2 linked regions of the Homo sapiens genome follow. The protein of the gene in region 2 interacts with the protein of the main gene of each other region in a pairwise test. Each region holds a gene or a part of one and is shown on either strand. Other genes may lie near its edges. The genes, in order: GIT2 and GCH1.

Region 1 (3,818 bases), on a different chromosome or scaffold from region 2:
CTCTTACCTTACATTACCCTTCCATTAAAAAAGAGATGGAGCCAGAACTGGGACGTGGATTTCAAAGCCTATGCCCTTTCCACGGCTTTCCCAGGTTGTGGTCATGTACCACTCTTTATGCATGAAAGTATTTTTTAATTGACAGTGCCTTTGGGAGCAGGGGCTGTGCCAGCTAAGTCCTTAGGACCCTTTCATTGACTTACCCAAACGCTGTGTATGGAGGAGGTGCTTAATACTTACTGCCTGACTACTCTAAAAGAGGCTTACCTGAATCATGCACTGCTATTGAGACCATAAATTATACACCAGTAGGTGAGGTTTAACCAACCCGTACAAGTGAACAGCTTTAGGTTAACAGCTGCTTGCATAGCTCCAATGCCACAAGGTGTTACAATTCTGATTCAAGATGCAGGGACTTGTAAACCTTGGTTTGTCAGCACTTGTGGTGCTGACATAAAATGTGTCACAGGTTAAAAAAAAAAAAAAAGGCATGACATTTTAGTACTTCAGCGAGTCCACATACAGCAGTTTCAATCTGACAACTGTAGCCCTGAACAAATTGAACAAATTTGGCCTATTATAATATCTAACCAGCAGCCAGCTAATTTTCTCGTTGTTTAAAAAAACAGTTTGCTCAGAATAAATGCTGTAGGGTGATTTGCAAACTTTGTTAAATATGACGTGAACATGAGCAGTATGGGGTTAGAGAAAGGGAGGCGCCCTCGATGGGTGAGCGTGCATGTGGACGAGTGTGAGCCTGATGCACTGTGAGAAACCAGGAGGAAGTGCTGCCTCATGCAGGACGGAAGGGCAGTTAGCAGGGACAGGAGGGCCAGAGCCCAAGCACAAAGCGCCCAGGAGCACGGCCCCTCCTCCAGAGAGCAGACCATTCAGAATGTACTTAACCCTTCGGGCGCTTTCGTCCCTCGACCAGGAAAGTGTGGAGGGGAAGGAAGGCAGAGATGAAGAGGAGGTCACAAGTGCACTCCTCCCGATCTGGAATGGGAAAGAGAAACACACTCGGGAAAATACAAAACAAACCAAAAACCTACCACCTTGCCAGCTTCAGTAAAAGAATCCTGGAACACCACACATTATGTGACGTGAGTGCTGCAATCTCAGTGGCCACCAGTGACAGGACCCCAGAGATGCTTAAACCCTTGGTGAAACACCTCCTGGAAATTACTCTGAATTTAATAAGGCTGCTTTTCCATAAGGGAAATACCTAACATAATTTGTCAAACTTGTCAATAATTTTTTAATGGATACTATGAAATGCATATTTGTTTTTCAATCAGGACTGATGTGAAATGAGAAACTATAAAAATGATTCTAAGTTGCTATACACTATCAATCTAATTTTTAGTACAATTACAGTGCCTTCCTGATATATCTTTATATTCTAATTTTTTCTAAAATAAGAAAGTACACTGAAAAATAACAAAGTTGCTTTTCCTAAATTTTGTCTTCAGCTATACAAAAATAAGATTCTTAACTTAGGGTGGGCATGGTAGCTCACACCTGTAATCCTAGCACTTTGGGAGGCTGAGGCGGGCGGATTGCCTGAGCTCAGGAGTTTGAGACCAGCCTGGGCAACATGATGAAACCCCGTCTCTACTAAAACAAAAAAATTAGCCAGGCACAGGACCATGTGCCTGTAGTCCCAGCTACTCAGGAGGCTGAGGCAGGAGAACTGCTTGAACCCAGGAGGTAAAGGTTGCAGTGAGCTGAGATCACACCACTGCACTCCAGCCTGGGTGACAGAGCGAGACTCCATCTCAAAAAAAAAAGATTCTTAACTTAGTTCAGTGGCATTCCCATTACATCAAATGTATCAAATCAATTGCCTTAGAATGTTAAACCCAAATATCTTAAAAAGAATCTGAGATAACAGACTCCCAATTATAGTAAAACAATATTGTAATTTTACCACACTGAAAATTGACAAAATTAAACTAGGGTTTAATTCACGAAACCATGTCCTTGCTTTGCATCTACCTTGAGAATTTTTTTGGAAACTCCCATAAAATTTGACTGAAGAAATAATAAACTTTGACACTCAAAAAGACAAATACTACTCTCTGAAAAAGCATCCCATGAAAAAGTTTAAATGTAACATCTTGGCAAAACACATATTTTTATAATAAAGTAATCCAGAAGAAATATATTTGAAAACCTTATAACACAGTATGTATCCCAATGCAAAATAAGATTGTAAGAACCCTGCTGCAGAACACAATCTCTGGAATTCAGCGCTTCTAAGACTGATGTAGAGTATTACATTTCCTTTTCTGAGACAACAAAGCCACACTTCCCCCACCACGGTGGGAGGAGCAGGATGCAGAAGCGAACCTAGCAGGCACACTGAGCACACATGGAGAGGCTGCGGAAGCCTGGAGCCTTCCAGCCTTGCCTGGGTACCTGGGCCACAGACTCAAGGCCACCTGCTTGAGGAGGAGCTGAAAAGACGTCTTGGATTCTAAGGGCTCCAGTACTTAAAGGGGCACATCCCTGTCTAGCTCCAAGAAGGCAACACTTCCTTCTGAGAGTGAACTTTATGATTTATTTTTGTTTTTGGAAGTAGAGAAGGAAGGAAGCTTTACCAAAAAAAGTTCCAACACTGGCTGGTTGAGAAATAATCATGGATGTGGGGGAGAAAAAAGCAGCAGTTCGGGCAAGAGCCAGAATCCCCAACTTGGTTAGGAAACCATCAGCCCATGGCCCTGTGTGCTTGTGGGAATATCGCAAGCATCTGTGGACATGTTAATACAGCAAACACAATGGTAACTCTCTTAGTCCAATTTGGCAAAGCAGAGCTGTGGGGACCTGTAGGTTCAGAAGAGGGAACAGAGTAGACAGGCTGCATAGAGTGAACAGCAGAAGCGCCAGTGGTGTTACTTACGTGCGCGGGGAAGGGCTGGAGTCTCATCCTGCTCTCTTCGGGGCGGCTCGCTTCTCCCATTGGGAGATATGGTTTCTGACCTGATCCGGTCTCGTACATGGACATGGGCCTACTGCCCCGGGCAGACGGACGTCTCTTTAAGGAAGAGTGGTTGGAAGTGTCTGTGTACTCAGAACCAGTTTGCACCTGATATACATTGGTTGTGGCCTGTTTCCTGAGGTTCGAATTTTCACTCTGGAGTGTTTGAAGCTGAAAGAAATGTTTGGCAGTGGGACTGTGTTTTTTTACAGCAAGCAGAAAAAGCAAACACCAAGTAAATGAATACAACTACCAGTTTTAAACAATAAGGACAGTAACAGCTAGCCGGGCTGAAAGTAAAAAGCCAATACAAACAAGGACCCTTTCTTCTGGATTGGGTGAAACACAATCAACTCCCTTCATCACGTAAGCAAATTAAATAGCTTCATTTCTGAATGTGGAAAAGTTGTGGTTTGGACTTCCTCAAAACAAAATGTCTAACCACTTTAAAATTTGTCATGGTGGGGCTGGGAAATGTTTGCAGGCAAGCTGTACACTGGATTATTACTAAGGCTGTTTCAAGCAAGAGTTCGAGATCATTAAAACATCATTTAGGTAACTTGCTTTTCAAATGAGCCCTGAGCAATTTGTAAAGGCCAAAAATGACAGCAGACACCATGGAAGCAGCACAAAGATGACTAGGGTTGCTTTGCAAAGCAAGAAAGACAGAAGTTCAGCTTGTGAAAAATCAGATCGCCTATTGCTTTCCAAAAAGCCAACAAGAAAAATTATGATCAACAAGTTTTTATTACATAATACTCTTGATATTCCAAACAATTCAGCACTTTGTAAAAAAAAAAAGAAAAAAGAGAAAACCGGATCATGGTAAGTTTGCTAT
Region 2 (3,818 bases):
ATAAAAGATATAAAGTCCTGTATCCTGTTTACAAGCACAGAAAAGTGACCTTCAGAGAAGTATGTTCTTATCCAAAAACAATATATAGTGGCCACTTGACTCATGCTCTCTAAAGAAATAAAAGGGATTGTGCAGAAGCGTTTATGGACCTAAAGATGTGGGTTCCCACTCACTCCTATCTCCCACCAGTATCCTTCCTTCTCCCTGCCATCCAGGTTGGTCCAAGACCCCACCACATTTCAGGTTCATTCCTTTAAGTTCAGCATCATCCTTGTTCTCACTACTCTGTCTTCTCTTTAATTATATATCTCTTTAAAAAAAAAAAAGAAATATTAAATCCTTAAACAGATCCCCTAGATACAGGCTTTCAAACTTTTGACTACAACCTACAGTAAGAAATGCATTTTACATCTGGAGCCAGTGCACACACACACAATTATGCCTATAAAACCTACATAGAAGTTTCTCGGCCGGGAGCGGTGGCTCACGCCTGTAATCCCAGCACTTTGGGAGGCCGAGGCGGGCGGATCACAAAGTCAGGAGATCAAGACCATCCTGGCTAACACGGTGAAACCCCATCTCTACTAAAAAAATACAAAAAAAAAAAATTAGCCGGGTGTGGTAGCGGGCGCCTGTAATCCCAGCTACTCAGGAGGCTGAGGCAGGAGAATGGTGTGAACCGGGAGACCGAGCTTGCAGTGAGCCCAGATCGCGCCACTGCACTCCAGCCTGGGCTACAGAGTGAGACTTCATCTCAAAAAAAAAAAAAACAAAAGAAGAAGTTTCTCAAAACACTTGTCCTTACTATATGTGATAGACTGATCTTATCCATTCTACTCCACTTTTTGTTTTTTTTTTTTTTTTTTGAGATGGAGTCTTGCTCTGTCGCCAGGCTGGAGTGCAGTGGCACAATCTCGGCTCACTGCAACCTCCGCCTCCCGGGTTCAAGTGATTCTCCTGCCTCAGCCTCCCAAGTAGCTGGGACTACAGGCACGCACCACCACACCCAGCTAATTTTTGTATTTTTAGTAGAGACGGGGTTCTTGATCTCTTGACCTCGTTATTTGCCCACCTCAGCCTCCCAAAGTGCTGGGATTACAGACTTGAGCCCCCGTGCCCAACCTCTACTCACTTTTTTTTTCTGAGACTGAGTTTCGCTCTTGTTGCCCAGGCTGGAGTGCAATGGTGCAATCTTGGCTCACTGCAATTTCCGCCTCCTGGGTTCAAGCAATTCTCCTGCTTCAGCCTCCCAAGTAGCTGGGATTACAGGCATGCACCACCACACCTGGCTAATTTTTGTATTTTTAGTAGAGAAGGGGTTTCTCCATGTTAGTCAGGTTGGTCTCGAACTCCCAACCTCAGGTGATCCACCCGCCTCGGCCTCCCAAAGTGCTGGGATTACAGGCGTGAGCCACCGCGCCCGGCTACTCCACTTTTTTTTTTAATGCTGTTGACCCAATTCACAGTTTGAAATATACAGATAGGGTACACTGATTCAGTTCTCTCTGTAGCAGTATAAGGAAGTGGCTAAGAATTCTGCAGTCAGACTCTCTGGATTCAAATACCAGCTCTACTACTTGTGTCAACCTCTCTGCCTCAGTTGCCTTGTCATGGGGATAAGAGAAATGTTTACTTGAAAACTGGAAGATGAACCAAGACCATCCAACGTAAAGCTTTTAACCCATTAAAAAGTACGGTCATGCATTGCTTAACAATGGGGATACATTCTGAGAAACACCTGAGAAATGCAGTTTCATATCGCAAACACTGAAGGAAGAGAGTGCTAACACAAACCTAGATGAGATAGCCTATTACACACCTAGGCTACACGGTAGAGCCTATTATTCCTAGGCTACAAACCTGTATGGCATGTTACTGTAATGAATGCTGCAGGCAACTGTAACACAATGGTATTTGTGTATTTAAAGATATGTAGGCCAGGTGGGATAGCTCATGCCTGTAATCCCAGCACTTTGGGAGACCAAGAGGAGAGGATCACTTGAGCCCAGGAGTTCGAGACCAGCCTGGGCAAAACAGTGAGACCCTGCCTCTATATTTAAAATACAAATAATAATAATTTTAGAAAGACATCTAAACATAGAAAAGGTACAGTAAAAATATAGTAGAAAAGACTTAAGATGGTATGTCTGTGTAGGGCACTTACCATGAAAGGAGCTTGCAGGATTGGAAGTTGCTCTGGGTGAGTCAGTGAATGCATGGTAAGTGAATGTGAAGGCCTAGGACATTACTGTACACTACTGTAAACTTTATAAACACTGTACACTTGGGCTACACTAAACATATTTTTTCTTCAATAATTTCAGCTTAATGTATTTAAAACTTTGACTCTTTTGTAATAACACAGCTTAAAACAAAAACACATTGTACAGCTGTGCAAAAATATTTTATATCCTTGTTCTATACCTTTTTCTATTTTTAATTTTAATTTTTATTTTTATTTATTTATTTACTGTTGAGACGGAGTCTCACTCTGTCAACCAGGCTGCAGTGCATTGGTGCAATCTCGGCTCACTGCAACCTCCACCTTCTGGGTTCAAGTGATTCTCCTGCCTCAGCCTTCCAAGTAGCTGTGACTACAGGTATGCGCCACCACATCTGGCTAATTTTTACATGTTTAGTAGAGATGGGGTTTCAACATGTTGGCCAGGCTGGTCTCTTTCTAACTCCTAACCTCAAGTAATCCGCCCACCTTGGCCTCCCAAAGTGCTGGGATTACAGGTGTGAGCCACCATGCCTGGCCCAATTTTCTTAATTTTTAAATTTTGTTAAAAACTAAGACATGGGGGAGACGAGAGGAAAAAACTAAGACACAAACAAACACATTACTCTAGGCCTACACAGGTCAGGATCACCAAGACATCACCAGACAATGTGAATTTTTCAGCTCCATTGTAATCTTATAAACCACCTTCATACATGTGGTCCATCATTGAAGGAAACATCATAATGTAATGCATGATTATATTCAATTAATGGCTTATAATAATCTTAAATGGGCTGGGTATGGTGGCTCACACCTGTAATCCTAGCACTCTGGGAAGCCAAGGCAGGCAGATCCCTTGAGCTCAGGAGTTCAAGACCAGCCCGGGCAACATGGCAAAAACCCGTCTCTATCAAAAATACAAAAATTAGCAGGGCATGGTGGCACAAGCCTGTAGTTCCAGCTATTCAGGAGGCTGAGGTGGGATCACTTGAGTCCAGCAGAGTGAGACTGCAGTGAGCCGAGATTGCGCCACTGCACTCCAGCCTAGGCAGCAGAGCCAAACCCTGTCTCAAAAACATGAAAATAAACATAATAATAATAATCTTAAATGGTCCGCTCCATGGACTTTTCTTTTCTGAAACAGGGTCTCCCCACGTTGCCCAGGCTGTTCTCCTGAGCAACAACTATCCTCCTGCCTCAGCCTCCCTAGTAGCTGGGACTGCAGGCACGCCACAAAACCTGTCTTTATATTGTGGTAAAATATATATAAAATTGGTCATTTTTAGCCATCTTGAAGTTACAATCCAGTGGCATTCACAATATTGTGCAACTATCACCACTCTCTAGTTCCAGAACATTTTCATGACTCCAAAAGGAAGCTCCAAAGGAAGCTCCATACTCATTAAACAATCACTACCCATCCCCCTCTTCTCGCCAGTCCCTGACAACTACTAATCTTGCAGTGTCTCTACATCCATGGACTTTTTTTTTTTTTGAAATGGAGTTTAGTTCTTGTTGCCCAGGCTGGAGTGTAATGGTGCGATCTCGGCTCACTGCAACCTCCGCCTCCAGGGTTCAAATGATTCTCCTACCT

Evidence for each region.
Region 1: the proteins of GCH1 (region 2) and GIT2 interact in a two-hybrid assay, tested with the Homo sapiens proteins (one large-scale study listed by BioGRID and IntAct).

Annotation. Positions count from the first base shown.
Region 1 is NC_000012.12:109,944,354-109,948,171, forward strand, and holds part of GIT2 (ARF GTPase-activating protein GIT2), read right to left. Parts: exon of another isoform or gene 3,152-3,818; coding exon 2,903-3,151; intron 997-2,902; coding exon 907-996; intron 1-906. UniProt on the Homo sapiens protein: GTPase-activating protein for ADP ribosylation factor family members, including ARF1.
Region 2 is NC_000014.9:54,896,163-54,899,980, forward strand, and holds part of GCH1 (GTP cyclohydrolase 1), read right to left. Parts: intron 1-3,818. UniProt on the Homo sapiens protein: Positively regulates nitric oxide synthesis in umbilical vein endothelial cells (HUVECs). May be involved in dopamine synthesis. May modify pain sensitivity and persistence.